Regions from separate parts of the Homo sapiens genome. Here region 1 is linked to region 2. Evidence: fine-mapped expression QTL. Tissue or cell type: unexposed skin. Region 2 holds a variant in brackets; the other region holds the start of a gene. All regions are shown on one strand. Distances are between the middles of the regions.

Region 1 (8,000 bases), 39 kb before region 2:
ATCAAGCTTGAAATCACTAACACAGAGATAACAGGAAAATCTCCAAATACTTGGAAACTAAACAACATGTTTCTAAATAATCCACGGAACAGAGAGGAAACCTTAAGGGAAATTAGAAAAAAAATAGGGAAATGAATGAAAATGAAAATATGACACACCAAAATCTGTGGATACAGCTATAGCCATGCTGAGATGTAAATTAATAGTACTAAGTCATATATTAGAAAAGGGGAAAAGTCTCAAACGAAAAAGGTAAACTCCTACCACAAGAACCTAGACAAAGTAGAGCAAAATAAAGCAAGCAGAAGAAATAATAAGGAGCAGAAACTGACAAAACTGAAAACAGAAAACACAGAAAGTCAATGAAATAAATAACTGGTTCTTTGAAAAGGTCAATAAAATTGACAAACTTCTAGCAAGATTGACAAGGGAGTGAGTGAGCAAGAGAGAGAGAGAGAGAGAGAGGAGAGAGAAGAGACGAGACACTGATACTGGAAATTTCCAATATCAGTAATGAAACGGGACAGTACTACAGACCCTGCAGACATCAAAGGGTAATATGGGAATGCTATGGTTTGAATATCCGTCCCTTCCAAAACTCATGTTGAAATTTAATTCCCAATGTATTGAGAAGTGGAGTCTTTATAAGCCCTCATAAATGGATTAATGGGTTATCATGGGAACTGGTGGCTTTATAAGAGCAAAACAGACCTCAGCTAGCACACTCAGCCCCCTGGCCCTGTGATATCCTGCACTGCCTTGGGACTCTGCAGAGTCCCCACCAGCAAGAAAGTTTTTTACCTGATGTGGCCCTGTGACCTTGGATTTCTCAGCCTCCATAACTGTAAGAAATACATCCTTTTTCTTTATAAATTACCCAGTTTCAGGTATTCTGTTATAAGCAACAGAAAACAAAGACAGGGAATACCACAAATAGCTTTACCCATATAAATTTGACAACTTTGATGAAGTGGTTAATTCCTCAAAAAACACAACCACAATAGGAAAGAGATTATTTTAACAGCTTTATAACTTTTAAATAAACTGAATTTGTCACTTAAAAACTCCAGAAAAAAAAGGAAGAAGGGAAGGAAGGGAGGGAGGGAGGAGGGAGGAAGGAGGAAGGAGGGAGGGAGGGAAGCAGGGAGTGGAGGGAATCTCCAAACCAAGATGGTTTCATTGGAGAATTCCGCCAAACATTTAATGAAGAATTAACACCAATTCTGCACATACTCTTCTAGAAAAAGAAGAAACACTTTCCAATCCATTTTATAAAGCCAGTATTATCCTGATACCAAACCAAAGGCAATACAAAAATTAAAAAAATCTATAGACCAATTTCTCTCATGAGTATAGATGCAAAAATCCTAAAGAAAATATTAGGAAATTCAGCAGTATGTAAAACACACACACACACACACACACACACACACACACCATGATAAAGTGGGGTATATTTCAGAGATGCAAGACTGGCTCAATATTTGAAAATCAATTAGAGTTGTTAATACTAACAAGCTATTAACAAGCTTAAGAAGAAAAATCACATAATCATATCATCCTCACCTTTCAGACCTCTATATGTTGAAGAATCCTAGGACTCAGTCTCTTTTTACACCTTATTCCGTTATGACTCTCACATTTTTATCTCTAACCCAGATAGCTCTTCCTTGAATTCCAGACCCATAAACCCAACTGCCCCTTAGACATCTATACTCAGATAGGCATTTCCAAATGGACATGTCCAAATACAAATGCTTGCTCTTACTCTCCAAACCCACTCTTTTCTGTAATTCAGTAAATGGAAGCGCTATTCTTATAGTTGCTTAGGCCAAAACCCTTGGAGCTATCTCAACTCTCATATGTCTTTCACACCCCATATCCAATCTATCAGCGGATCCTGTTACCTCTTCCTCTAAAATATCCCCAGAACTGTCCCTTTCTTACCACTTCCACAGATACCACCCTGGTTTGAGTTATCCTTTCACCTGGGTTACTACAACAGCTGCCAAACTGGTCCTTCCTGCTTCTACCTTTGCACTCTTACTGTCTTATTTTCTACCTAACAGCCACAATGCTCCTTCTTTGTGCAAAACTGCCCAGTGGACTTCATTTCATTCAGAGTAACATCTAAAGTCTATACTATTGCCTACAAGTCACCATGTGATGCAGTCCCTTCGTACTTTTCTGAACTAATTTCCAGCCACCCTTCTAGTTCATATCACTCCAGCTTTATTGTCCTCTCTGCTGTTGCTCCAAAATGCCAACAATGGTATAAACTTGGTTTTCCCTCTTCCTGGAACAATGGCATATGGCTTGTCTCTCAAATGACATCTTATCAATGAGGCCTTCTCTGAGAAGCATAAGTAAAAGACTACCCACCTACACATATACATTCCTTATCCTCCTTATCTCCTTGATTTTTATTGAAGTTACTTACCACTTTCTGACTTATTCTAAACTTGCATGTTTGTTTTTCTATCTTTCTCAGTAGAAAGTAAGTTCCTGAGAACGTGGATTTTGTCTGTTAGCTTAGAAGAGTGCTTTGGACATAGGTGCTGAAAAATTATTTTCCGAATGAATGAATAAACTATTGGTTCAGGAGGCAAGAATTTGGGATCAGACATAAGATAACCCTAATTTGACTCCTGGCTCTGCTATTTCCTAACTATGTCCAAGTACATAGGGTACTTAACCATGCTTTACATTTTCTCGTCTATCAAATAGTGATTGTAATAATTTCAACTCCTAAGACTGATGTAAGAATTAAATTTAAAAAGTATGTAATGTGCTTAATAGACAGTGACTTGGTATAAAAGTGCTCAGTATATGACAGTGTTATTAATATGGAAAGATGATCTAGATTTCGACACAAAAGCCCTCAGTTATGACTAGATACTCACTGTATGATTTTAGGTTACTCACCTCTTTTACACTAACTCACTTGATAAATCAGGAACTGGGGCCAAAAAGATGGCTAAGTTGCAGCCCCTTCCCTCAAGTCTTAGTAATGTGATCTTGGGTAGGTCACTTAACCTCTCTGAGCCTGTTTCCTACGCTGTCCAAAGGGGGATAATATAATACCTCACAGCTTTGTTGTGAGGATTAAATGAGTTACTGTGTGGGAATTGTGTCTAGCACATAGTAACCTCTCACTGCGTTAGCTATGATTATGATTCCAGTCTGGAGGAAGGGTAAAAGCATGTAAGCAAAGAACTGCAATACAGTGCAATAAGAGCAAAAGCAGGCATCAACTAGAAGAACGTCTCCTAAACTAGAGTCTGCCCACAACTAGGAAGTTATACCACGATCAGGAAATTTTAAAACCCTCTTATGTCTATAACTTAACTCCCTACCATCACCCCCGTGGCAGTAAGAAAAACAAAATTTCTCTGCTGCTTTGATACCTGGGATTTAAAACTTAAAAAAAAAATAGGGTCAAGGTTTAGAGTCTCAGATAGTGTTTTGTTTTGTTTCAGAGAAGAGTCTCGCTCCATCGCCCAGGCTGGAGTGCAGTGGCACGATCATAGCTCACTGTAACCTCTAACTCCTGGGCTCAAGGTATCCTCTCGCGTAGCTGGAACTGCAGGTGAGCGTCACCATGCCTGGCTAATTTTCGCTGTTACCCAGGCTGGTCTTGAACTCCAGTCCTCAAGCTATCCTCTCGCCTCGGCCTCCCAAAGGGTTGGGATTACAAGCAAGAGACGTTGCGCCAGGCCTCAAATAGTGTGTCTCAACATGAGGTCAACAGACACATTGGGAAGGCTAAGTTAGTTCCCTCCACCTTTTCCCTAAAGTTAACACCTCACTTAAGTTCGAAAAAGTCAACTGGACCCGCAGACGGCAAAAGCAGCACGTAATAATACCCTGAGTGAGAACCCACTTAAGAGCCGAGAGCCCAAATGTGTGTTTCATGACGGCGCTGTTACAGACTAAAAGGTCAAAACAGGACATTAAAGGGTGCTCCGGGGGGCTGAGTAGGAGCTCACCAGGTGAGAAAGGGGATGTCACTTTCGGACAGAGAACGAGCGCCAGGGCGTGGAGGCGTGAAAAGGGCACGTGGGTGGCTTGGAAGAACCAAAACTAAGTGTTTTGGGGGACAGCCAGAGAGCCGAACACATATGGAGGAAAGATGCGGCCTGGGGCCCGCCAGATTAGAAAGGAAATCCCCCTCCCATATCCAGATCATGATCTCTCAGACTCAATGTCCCCTCAGGATACCCCTCTACAGGGTCCCAGCTGCTGGGCTCCCTCTGGTTCCCGCCACTCTTCCCTTACCTCGTCTTCCAGCCTTTCTCTCACTCTCCCGCCTCCTCTGCCTCGCCGGAAGTGACGCGCTAAGTAGCGCGCCGTATCGCGCCAGAAAGGTTCCGAGGGAGCGGGAAAAAGGGTTCCGGCGAGATCCACTGCGCCGGTGTGCAGGCTCGAGCGGTCAAAGCTCTTTCCGGGGGCCCGGGGAACTACTCTCCTTGCCTCGCTCTGTCTCCTTCGAAGTGCTCTGCGCGAGGTTCAGAGCGGCCGCCGCCTCCAAAGGGACGGTTTTCTAGAGCTCCGACGCCTCTCGGTGCCCCTCTGCTCCGGCCCTTGCCCTTTGACCTCGCTCTCGCGGCAGGGTGAGAGGTCGGGTGGCCATCTTGTGGCGGCGGCGCGGGCGGCTGTTACTGCGGAGACCCATCCCCTCCCCCTTCTCGCACCCCTGGCAGTCTGTCAGTCGGTAAAAAGTCCCGCAGCCTGTCAGGTGAGGCCCCGGCCTCGTGCCGTCGCTCTTCCCGCCGCACTGGGCGGCCCAGGCCGCTCCCTGCCGGGCCTCACTGCCGCCACCATGTCCTCCTTCTCTGAGTCGGCGCTGGAGAAGAAGCTCTCGGAGCTGAGCAACTCTCAGCAGAGCGTGCAGACCCTGTCCCTTTGGCTCATCCACCACCGCAAGCACGCGGGACCCATCGTCTCCGTGTGGCACCGCGAGCTCCGCAAAGGTAAACACCAAATCCCCACCCCCTGGACGGTCCCCGGATTGTCCTCTCGCCCACATACAACCTAGGCCCCTCTAAGCCTCTTCATTGAGCCTTGCTTTCCAGGCCTGATCGAGCTTCTGAGATGGGAGACAAAGTTAGCCCCATTTCTCGAAGAAGGAAACTGAGGCCCGGGAAGGTTTAAGGTACTTGCCTGAGGGTCCACGGACTGGGACTCAGGTGTCCAGACTTCTAGTTCATCAAGCCATTTTCCCTTCAGTTTCCCCCTGACATTTGTGGCTGTTATTATCTCGGCTGCATTCACTGCCGTACTGGCCCTAGCATGTCGGGCCCAGTGCTGGGTATTTGGAGTAAAAGCCAGTGGGCTCCGGAGTCAGACTCTGCAGATCGAGTCCTGGCTCAGCTATTTGCCAGCTGAATAATACTGGGAGAGTTTCTTCATCTCCCTGTGTCTCCGTTTTCTCATCTGTAAGAGGGAGGCAAGGATAGCTACCCCTTACAAAGCCTTTACTTCATACCAGTCACTATACTAAGACCTTTGTGTGTATCCTCGCACTCAGTCCTTAGAACAGCCCTGTGAAGTAGGTAGTCTCTCCCATCTTAGGTTAAGGGGCCACCCAGACCTTACCTCTCCTCTCCTCTCCTCTCTCATGCAGTTGTCATTGATTTCAGGCCCTGCTCAGGTTCTGACAGACAATTCATTGAACTCATTCTGTTATGTGCCAGGCACTGGCTTGGACACTTGCAGCATGTTGCCTCTGCCAACTGCCTAGAATTTAAGCCTGACTTTGCCGCCTTACTGACCCCAGCAACTTAACCTGTCTGTGCCTTAATTTTCTTATCTACAGAATGGATAACTGAAATTTACTATGTCTTTATTACATGCGAAGTGCAGTACTGATATCTTTACATACATTGCCATTAAAAAAAATTCTCGGAGCCCTATGAAGTAGGAACTTTGCAGAAGAGGAAAAACTGAGACTCATCTCGTGGTGAGGAGTAAACGGGATAATCCAAATGAACATTTAGCATGGGGTGAGGCACAGTGTAGGCATTCAGCAGATTATGGTGAGATGAGACTTTTGATTACTCACTGTGAGGCATGGTCTTTACCTTCAAGTTGCTTACAGTCTGGTGGGGAAAGATGGACACCTACACTCCCGGATGAGTTTCATAATGGAAGACTGAAGAAATGAAGCTCAGAGCTGCTCCAGACACCCTATATGTGGTAGGCCTTTATAGCGAAGTGGCTTTACAAGTGTTCTATACTATCTGTGAGTTGGGGACACCACAGATGTCCTGCTCTACAGGTGAGGAAACTGAAGTGGCTAAGTGGTATTTTCAAGGCTTTCGAACTGAACAGGCTCAGACTACAACAGGCTGGCAAACACCAAAATCTTCATGATTTTTTTCAGGAGACCCAGTTCTAGCCCTTTAGCAGGGACTGCCCCCAAATATCGCGTACTGTACTGAGATAGGGATCCCCTCAGCCCTTCGGGCAGTTCCGGGAAGAGGTAGAGCCTGGAGTTTATGGGGCCTTCTTCATGTACCCCACTGTGCCATTCAGAAATTATTTGAAGAGTGTGCTGAAATGTGAATTGCCACTGTACAGAATTCTATTGGGTGGGACCTCAAGAGGCAGTTAAAGTCCATCTCAGGTGTCATTTTTTTTGTTTTTTTTTTTTTGAGATGGGGGTCTCGCTCTGTCACCCAGGCTGAAGTGCAGTGGTGCGATCTCAGCTCACTGCAAGCTCCACCTCCCGGGTTCATGCCATTCTCCTGCCTCAGCCTCCCGAGTAGCTGGAACTACAGGGGCCCGCCACCACACCCAGCTAATTTTTTGTATTTTTAGTAGAGATGGGGTTTCACTGTGTTAGCCAGGATGGTCTTGATCTCCTGACCTTGTGATGCCCCCGCCTCGGCCTCCCAAAGTGCTGGTATTACAGGTGTGAGCCACCACGCCTGGCCAAGTGTCACTTCTTTTGTGACACTTTCTTGATTCCTTGCCTCACCCTAGTTGAGTTACTGAAAAAAAGCAAATTAGAGAGTACATTTGTGTATGAAGCTCCGTTATCCCTAATCTTACGTGGTAAAGCCTTATGTTGCAAGTAGGCTAGCATTATTATCCTCATTTTATAGATGAGATGATAAAGGTATAGAGGGATTAAGTGCCTTGTCCACAGACATACAGCTAGGACATGAGCCCAGGGCTGCCTGATGCCAAAATGTGTTCTTTTTCATGTACTCAGTGCCTCAATGCATTTAATAAGTGAAGGTGGTCACCTGACTGCAATCAAACTGTGGTGCTTTCATTTATTAGAATTAATGAGTGCCTCCCACCCCATCATACCAGTTTAGCATTTAATTTGTTCCTACTAGCTGTTCATTTGAACTGGTTACATCTTTGTCATTAGATTATGTTTTGAGAGAGGAACTAGACCTTCTTGTTTATTTGCAACACCACAGGATATCGCGTGGTGCCTGTTATATAGTTTAAAAATAGGAATTAAATCATGGTCTCTGATAGAATTTTCGTGGTTGAGTAAAGGATCTAAACAGCGCTATCCAATACAACTTTCTATGATAGCAGCATAAAGGATATAAACAGCGCTATCTAATACAATTTTCTGTGATAATAGCAATGTTTTCTATCTGTGCCATCCAACAGGTAGCCGCTTGGTATATGTGGCTATGGAGCACTTAAAATGTGTGACTAAGGAACTAAAGTTTTAAGTAGATAGAATTGAAAATTTAGTTTCCAGTTTTTACCAGCTGCAATTCAGGTGTTCCAATAGCCACACGTGGCTAGTGGCTAACTTACTGGACAGTGCAGAGTTAAAAAAAGATGCTCTTCCAAGCATCAATACCTAGCTTCCGAATATCCAGGCTTATTTCATGAACTGAAAATGCCCCCACACTGAAAGAAAAGGATTCTGTGCCCTAATGTTCAGATTGATTAGCCCTGTAGGTTCTACCTAGGGTGAAGTCATTTTCCGTAGCTGAGATGCTCACAGACTGTCTCTGAGTTGC
Region 2 (8,352 bases):
AGGTTTTTTTCTGAGATGGAGTCTCGCTCTGTCACTCAGGTTGGAGTGCAGTGACGTGATCTCAGCTCACTGCAGCCTCCACCTCCCAGGCTCAACCAATCCCCCGTCTCAGCCTCCTGAGTAGCTGGGATTATAGATTATAGGCATGTACTACCACGCCCGGCTAATTTTTTTTGTTTTTAGCAGAGACAGAGTTTCACCATATTGGCCAGGCTGGTCTTGAACTCCTGACGTCAAGTGATCTGGCCGCTTCACAATATAAGATTTGAGAGATGGTTTTAGTTCTTTTCTTTATCCACGCTTGCTAAAAATTTAGGCAGTCTGCTCTCCTGAACCTAAGATTTTTCTCTCACATTCTGTAATAGACTGGTCCTGTCCCATCACATCCCTATGGTGGTGGCCGAACTTGATAAATGTATGCCCCTTGAAAGATGCGTGAATACTGTGAATTCCTTCAGATTGTCCAAAAGTCTCTCTGCGTGATGGGGCAGTACATAAAGTTTACCCACTTTTTTAACATTCATTTTTGTAACACAGCCAGTCCGTTTTAAAACTTCCAAATCAGAATGCTAATTAAATATTTTATTTTTTAATCCTTTCATTGCCTTCAGGATATACATAGATGAAATTCTCAGAACTCTTTGGAGAAGTAGTTATTTGCTTGCGAGTCTGTTTTCATCCCAAAGCTCTAATATACTTAGGTTTTGTGCTTTCCTTTTTAACTTTGTATCTTGCTTTATGTAATAAGCATCTTTTTCTCTTTCACTTGGGAATTTTATGTCGGTGGCTCCTGCATGTCAGGATAGGGCGTGTGATGATTCAGAGCCTAGGATGTAGGAGAGGGAATTACGGCTCAAAGTAGGAGATTGTGTTTCTTCCCTCGAGGAAATCATATTCTGGTATAAAAAACACAGGTGAACATAAAACCAAACCACTTGATCGTACATAATGTAGATTAAGGAGGCATTTGGCGGTTCTGATTGTGGTTTAAGGTAAGTCCAAACTTCCTGTCAGGCAATAAAACCTTTTTGTAAAAGGAACTAGCAGTTGAAGAAGAGAAGCATGTTTATAAATGGGGAGCAGTTAGACTGGACCAGACAGGTATCTGAAGAAAGACAAAGTCAGATGTGGGAAGGAGGTGCTGCAGACCACCAGTGGGAGATTAAGGTCTGTGCTCTTTAAGAAGCTACGTATTCATTCAGGGAGTCAGCAAAGCCTGTGCCAGCCAGATGTACAAAGATGGGCACGATGCACTTCTCCCCTCAAAGGGCTTATGCTCTAGTCAGGGGGAAATAGCAGCAAACAAGGGGTTAGGGTAGAATTCAAGATAGGTTGTCAGTAAGGAAAATATTCTCACTTGTGTCTACCTTGAAATAGACCAAGAAAAAAATGAAGATGCTAATAATAATTTGATCAGATGCTTATTAAAATTGTGAGAGTTATCAAATCATGGACAGTTTCTGAAACTGTAATGCCTTCAGCAGGTCTCCCAAAGTTTGCTAGACTGTATACTCTTTGAGTGCTCTCACAGTGCCAGGAACATATTTGTTCCTCAGTAAATACTTGTTCTGTGAAATCCATCACTTGATGTAACCTTTTTCTATAGAGAAAAGGGTTTTTTTTTAAGGTTGCATTAAAAGTGGCTTAACAAATCTGATTTAATGATTGGTTGTAAAGAATATGTTAGTACGGAAAGGTAACCATTTTTAGAAGTTTCTGTAGGTTTTCTCCTTTGTACTACTTTTCTTTTTTCCTTTAAGTAGAATTATGCTTTATTCTGAGATAATCATCTTTTTTTGTTTGTTTGTTTTTGACTTTTGCTTCAGGGTGTCATGATTGACTTTGGCCTATGATGTTGGCCCTTAAACACCAGGCAAGGGTGGAAGGAATGCTGCTGAAAATCTGTGGGTAATGTTTTTGTCATGAACATGAGAAAACCTAGAAATGGAGAAGGCACGTGGAAGGAAGCACAAATGGCAGCCCAAAGAGGAGGTTAGAGAATGTGGAGGGTATAGAAGAAAGCCCATTCAGAAAGGCAAAGGCCAAAGATACCAGAAAAGCCTTCCAGCTTCACTTCCAGAGCAAAGAGAAGCTTTGTTTGTGGTTGACAGAGGTGACTACATTACTCCCAGATGTCTGCTCAAAGCTCATAAGACATAGCGTGAGTGGGTTGGATAGGGTTCCTGTCTTGTCAGCGTGAATAAAGCATGATACAGACATGTTCTGTTAGCATGATCAGTGCATGTGGAAGAGTGTGTGTGTGAGAAAGAAACCTATTTGTACAAGTATTAAGGAAAGAAAAAAGGTCAGGAACCTGCAGTTTTCCCTTCTTAACTGTGATTTTTTTTTTTTTTTTTTTGAGACAGACTCTTGCTCTGTTGCCCAGGGCTAGAGTGCAGTAGAGCAATCTGAGCTCACTGCCTCCCGGGTTCAAGCGATTCTCGTGCCTCAGCCTCCCGAGTAGCTGGGACTACAGGCGCATGCCACCACACCCAGCTAATTTTTGTATTTTTAGTAGAGATGGGGTTTTGCCATGTTGGGCAGGCTGGTCTCGAACTCCTGATCTCAGGTGATCCACCTGCCTTGGCCTCCCAAAGTGTTGGAATTACAGGCATGCGCCTCCATGCCTGGCCTTAACTGTGAATTTTATTCAGATCATGGTGTCTGACTGTCAGCGATCTAGAACTGAAAGCAGATAGTCCTGTGTTGACCCACATGCCACATGGTGCACACACACAAAGATGATATGCCACACAGGGAAGAGCTCTTGAGAAATTTGTTCCAAGCTGCAGATTTATTGTTTTAGTTGAGGTGAAATTCATATAACGTAAATTAACCATGCACTTCAAAGTGCACACATTTTGGTGGCATTTAGTACGTTCACAGTATTGTATCAAGTTCCAAAACATAATTGTGTCTGGCTTCTTTCGGCACGATGTTTTCAAGATTCATCCCATGTTGTAGCATATATCAGTACTTCATCTCTTTTATGGTAGAACACTAATCTGTTGTATGGATGTGACACAGTTTATAACCTGTCTATGGACATTTGAGTTGTTGCCACCTTTTGGCTCTTATGAATAGTGTTGCTATAAACAGTCATGTGGAGGTTTTTGTGTGGCCATATCTTTTCATTTCTCTTGGTTATGTATAAATCTAGGAGTGGAATTGCTGGGTCATATGGTAATTCTATGTAACATTTTGAGGAACCATCAGACTGTTTTCCACAGCAGCTACATCATTTTACATCCCCACTAGCAATGTGCGTGGGTTCCAGTTTCTCCACATCCTCATCAACATTTGTTATTGTCTCTTTATTTTCGACAACCTACATGTGCAGGTTTATCTCATTGTGATTTTGATTTGCATTTTGCTAATTACTAACGATACTGATCATCTTTCAGTATGCTTGTCGGCTGTTTATCTTTGGAGAAATGTGTGTTCAATTCCTTTGCCCATTTTCAAATTGGGTTATTTGCTTTTTTTGAGTTGTAAAAGTTCTTTATATATTGTGGATAATATACCTTTATCACATAAATGATTTGCAACTATTTTCTCCTATAAGTTGTCTTTTCACTTTCTAGGTAATATCCTTTGATGTGCAAAAGTTTTTTATTTTTATGAGTTCCAATTTATCTATTTTTGTGGTTGTTGCTCATGCTTTTGGTGTCACATGTAATAATCTGTTGCCAATCCCAGGTCATGACAATTTTTTTCTGTGTTTTCTTCTAGAAGTTTTATAATTTTATGTCTTAAATTTACGTTCTTAATCTGTTTTGAGTTAGTTTTTGTATGTGGTGTGATGTAGGGGGGGACCAACTTCATTCTTTTGCCTGTAGATATCCATTTGTCCCAGCACCATTTGTTGAAGAGACTACTCTTTTCCTCCACCTGAATGCCCAGCACCCTTGTCAAAAATCAATTGGCCACAGATGTATTGGTTTATTTCTGGATTCTCAATTCTATTCCATTAATGTATATGTCTATCCTATGCTCATACCACACTATCTCCATCACTGTAGTTTTGTAGTAAGTTTTAAAATCAGTAAGTATGAGTCCTCAGAGTTCTTTTTCAGTATTGTTTTGGCTATTTAGGATCGCTTGCAATTCCCTATGAATTTAACAATCACCTTTTCCATTTCTGCAAAAAAGGTAATTGAAGTTTTACTAGGGAATGCATTGAGTCTGCGGGTCACTTTGGGGAGTATTGC[G/C]ATTTTAGCAGTCTTAAGTGTTTCAGCTCATGAACAGGGGATGTCTTCACATTTATTTAAGTCTTCAATTTCTGCTGCAGAATTTTAAAAAGCACTCTAGGAGAGTGTCATTTACTGATGCATTTGATATTATAAAGGCCCTGTCTAGGTTTTGGGACCACAGATGGAGGGCAGTGGTATCACCTTTCAATAATGTTAACCCCCACCTCTAGAAGATATGAGTATTTTGTGTATGGACTCAATGGAGTCACCAGGGCACAGTCACAACAGCAGCTTTACAAAGTAAAGTGACACATAGAGGCCTGGATATCTAAGTAAAGTGATTAGCAGGATTATTGAGCTGGACAGAACCTTAGAGATCATATAATCAGACTTCTGAATTGGTGAAGAAACCTAGAGAGAGAGGTAGCTGCAGACCAGCATAGAGTCCAAGGCAGACATCTGGTAACTTCATCAGATTTGTACTTTTGTTTTGATTTCAGAATTTTGATTCTGCAACATCAACAGCAGGAAGACATCTTACACAGAATAGTAGCCAAAGTTTAATCATTTAAACAGTTCCCAAGAATCTTGTTGTAGAGAAATGACATTTTATGTGGGGTCATAAAATGATTGCATGAAAGCATTCTAAGTGTGAAAGAACCTACTCTGCCACCAAGGTTCTAAGTACCTGCCTCGCTGTACCCCTGCTCACGCTCTTGCTCTGATAGGAGGGGAGAAATTGGCTCATGAACTTAAAGCTGCTGGTGTTTCTCCTCGCTTGGCACCTCCCCCTTGGCTGTAATGACTACTCAGGAGTAGAGCCTCTGACTTCAGACAACACAGCTGGGAAGGGGGAAATGGTTCAGAATCCAACATTGCCTTATGACTCTTCATATTTCTGTTTGATTGTGGTTATAACAACTTGAGAAATTCTTTGGCTACAGTTGAAGGGGTGCTCAACCAAAATGATGGCAGATTGTTGTTTTTGGCAGCACCTCCCTGCAGGGTGCAGATGGTTAGAAGCTTTTGTTTCAATATTAGGCCAGGCAGTAGGGGGAGATAGAGAGCTCCTTTTTTGTCAACTTTGGAGTAAATTCGTCTTTCCTATGATGATCAAAGCCAGTATCTCAGTGTCCTATCATGGTAAGGACAGATGGGAGCCGGTGATCTAATTGTCATTTTAGGTAAGAGCCCTTGGGTTTATGTGAACACTTCAGGGTCACAGAGGAAGCCAGTGAGGACCAGTACCTGGATCTTCTGACTCCTAACTACAGTGATCATCCACTGTGTTCTCCTGGGAGCTGAGAGGCCCTGCCTAGTGCCGGCCCCCTCCTCTCAGTCCTCTAAACTCACTGCCCTTCTGTAGTATTCAAGTCTGTCCTCCCTAGGCTGGCAGCTCTGTCAGCACCCAGGTTGTTAGAATAGTTGTTAAAACAGGTCATTCTGTTGCCAAGTAATTACGGGGCCTTGCACTCAGTACCTTCCCACGAAGCAGGCCGTAGTGTGCTTACTGCTCTCCCTTGCCTTTCCATCCCCTACTTTGATGTGGGAGTTTTCTTTCTTTTTACTTTTCTTTTATTTTCTTTTTTTCCGCCAGTTTCCCTCCAATATGTGAGGACTTTTATTGAGTTAATGTGTGGGCTTCTGTGAGTGATTTGGAGTTCCTTGGATTTCTTTTATTCATTTTAGTCTACTGACCCTACTGCTTAGGCCCAGTTTATAGCTGGAGCTTTTATCTGTTGGGTGTGTGTGTGTTTCTTTATTACAATGTGAAACCTATGATACTTATTTTTCACTCCAGGAAAATAATGCCACATTATAATGTACTTCACATACTTAGTGACTTAAGAACATGATTTGCCAACATTTGAGACTTTGAGACTTTACATTGAAAAAGTGACACGGTTTTAAGGCTTTCCCAGCAAGAATTCATGCCTTTAGCCATAGTACCGTTTTCATATTTGTAGCCCAACTTCTGTGGGCAGTGTAACCCCTGCTTGATGGAACAGTGCCACTGAGTTTCAGCTGGTATATGTAGCACTAATTTTTCATATTTATGGAATGCATATAATATGAAGTTAAAACAGCACCTGGGCCTCTTATTACTCCTGCCTGCCAGAACATTCACTCTGGTTCAACTAGTACTCAGGGTTTTTGTTTTTGTTTTTGTTTTCTTTTTTTGATTGTAAAAGTAATACATCAGAGGAAACTTAGCAAATAAGTATAAAGAATAAAATTAGTCTCATTACCCAGAGATAACTATTTTTAATTTTTGCGTATTTCCTTTTCCTCTTAGTTTAAAATTAAACTGAATGATAACTTGCAGATAATTTTCTGTCATGCTTTTTTCTTAACATGATTATTTTTCCTTGTAAATAAAAACTTTATAAACATTGTAAATGATTGCTTGAATACCTGTGGTTGGATAGTCAATGATTATTTGTATTGAGCACTTGTATGTTTCTGTCTCTGTCTCTTAGCTTTAGGCTAACTTTCAGTGTTTGGATTATTTTCTTCCTGTAGATTTCTAGAAGTGGTTCTATGTATATGTGCAGATGTCTGCTTGTCTTTTAAGTATACTGAAGGTCATATACATTTCACGGTCTCTGCCACCAGAATGCGTTCCTGCTGTAGGAGTTCTTGTCTTTTCCAAAGCATCTTAACCAGTCTAGGACTTCATTGAGCTTATTTTGTATAAACCTCTATACAAGTTAAGGATTAGTCTTTTGTTTTATGAAGGAGTAAACACAGAATAGTTTAATTAGACTAATGGAGCTCTCTTCTGGCTTTTAAATGATCTTGTTTACATTTGAGATAGCTGTGTGAAAATAGCACATACTTCTACTATAACATTGACTTGAGTGAGCATAATATTGAGAGCAAGGTTCAGATTGCAGAAATTTGAGCTGCCTGTTTGACCTAGTGGGTGCAAGTTATTTTGAGCAAGGTTCTATTTTAGTCTTTATGAATGTTCTTACTACTGTTAAGGTGGGCCTTCTACTCCCACTTAAAATTGGGATTCTGAAGAAAGTTAAAATTGGATTGTGGCATACTTTGCAATCTTGGAAGTTAATCTCTGACTTTGTTTTTCTGTCTCTAAAATGTTAGACTTGAAATAGATCAGAAAGAGTCATTTTCTGAGATCAGGGCAAAGTATTCTGGTTATAATCAGGAGTCAAGTGAAACCTTTGCAGATGAAAGCCATGAGCCCCAAAGATATGGCATGCTTTATGTGAAGAGGATGGTACTAGCCAGCTGTCATGATGGCTGTGCAAGCCTCCTTATTTGTTTTTTTCCTTATTGAGGTCCTTTATCTTTAAACATCTGTAGGAAGAAGTATGATTAGCTCTCTTTGCCTAATTCTGCCAGTAGCTACTTTGAGAATTTCAAGCACAATAACTTCGCAAACTTCAACTCAACAAAAATTTACCAGCAGCCTTTCTGAGAATTATTGGGGTTTGGACAGTAATTATGAATGGACAAATCCTACTTTTACTCATGATGTCCTTTTCCCAGTCCTTTCCTTTTGCTCACAGTGTGTCTGTTCTGTGGGGCATAGACTCAGTAGGAATTGTTCCCTTTAAGATACCATTTACCCCAATTATGGTGCAGTGATGATGATCTGCTTTGCATATTTCAGGTTCTTTTTGGCTTTTTCCATTGAAGCCAGTGGTCCTCCCAGCGTTTTATCTTTGATGTGACTTTTCATTGATAAAGTAACACTTTACCTTCCTGGGACAACAGATTCCAACACCTTAACTAATCTGAAGTTGTTAGCTTCCACCTTCCCTCGTCACATGGGACCTTTAGGGCCAATTTATTTTCCTGCCCACATGAGAAGTCTCCAGTAAACTAGCTGAAGGTCCTCAGCATGTAGCATGCTTTGTCTCTCCAGTGTTTAAAAGAAATCATCACATTCACATGAGCATACCCTCTGCACCACCCTCCCTTTATAACTACCACCATATCCACTTCCCTTGCTGCCTCTGCTTCTCAGCCTGTTGCAGCTTGGCATGCATGTCTACATTCCACCCAAGTGGCTGTCTTCAGAATTTCCCCCCTTCCCCCCACCCCTGCCCCCAGTGGTCTAATCTCAAAACCCAAAAGGTACTTCTTAGTCTCTGCCTCTTGGCTCCCTTTCTCTTTTTGGCCCTGTCTG

Alleles and levels. Alleles are on the strand shown, and positions count from the first base shown. SD is a standard deviation of normalised expression in the study named.
For the expression in unexposed skin of the gene that starts at base 4,331 in region 1, C is the low allele of the variant in region 2 and G is the other (moderate effect, 0.51 SD a copy in GTEx).

The links. PIP is the estimated chance that this variant, and not a neighbour inherited with it, causes the effect.
Region 1: it holds the start of TTI1, and the variant in region 2 is fine-mapped to the expression of TTI1 in unexposed skin (GTEx, PIP above 0.99).

Annotation. Positions count from the first base shown.
Region 1 is chr20:38,029,126-38,037,125 of GRCh38, forward strand. It overlaps TTI1 (TELO2 interacting protein 1), which reads right to left and starts at 4,331. Exons shown (of 8, transcript NM_001303457.2): 1 at 4,279-4,331. RPRD1B (regulation of nuclear pre-mRNA domain containing 1B) reads left to right here and starts at 4,621. Exons shown (of 7, transcript NM_021215.4): 1 at 4,621-4,973. The coding sequence starts at 4,823. LOC124904898 (a long non-coding RNA gene) reads left to right here and starts at 4,981. Exons shown (of 2, transcript XR_007067579.1): 1 at 4,981-6,280. RefSeq lists enhancers at 4,062-4,657, 4,188-4,457, 4,658-5,253.
Region 2 is chr20:38,068,399-38,076,750 of GRCh38, forward strand. All of the region lies in intron 6 of RPRD1B (regulation of nuclear pre-mRNA domain containing 1B), which reads left to right. Among named protein-coding and RNA genes, the nearest start is that of RPRD1B, 39 kb to the left of the region's middle. RefSeq lists an enhancer at 4,967-5,076. The variant G/C (reference allele first, on the strand shown) is at 4,212.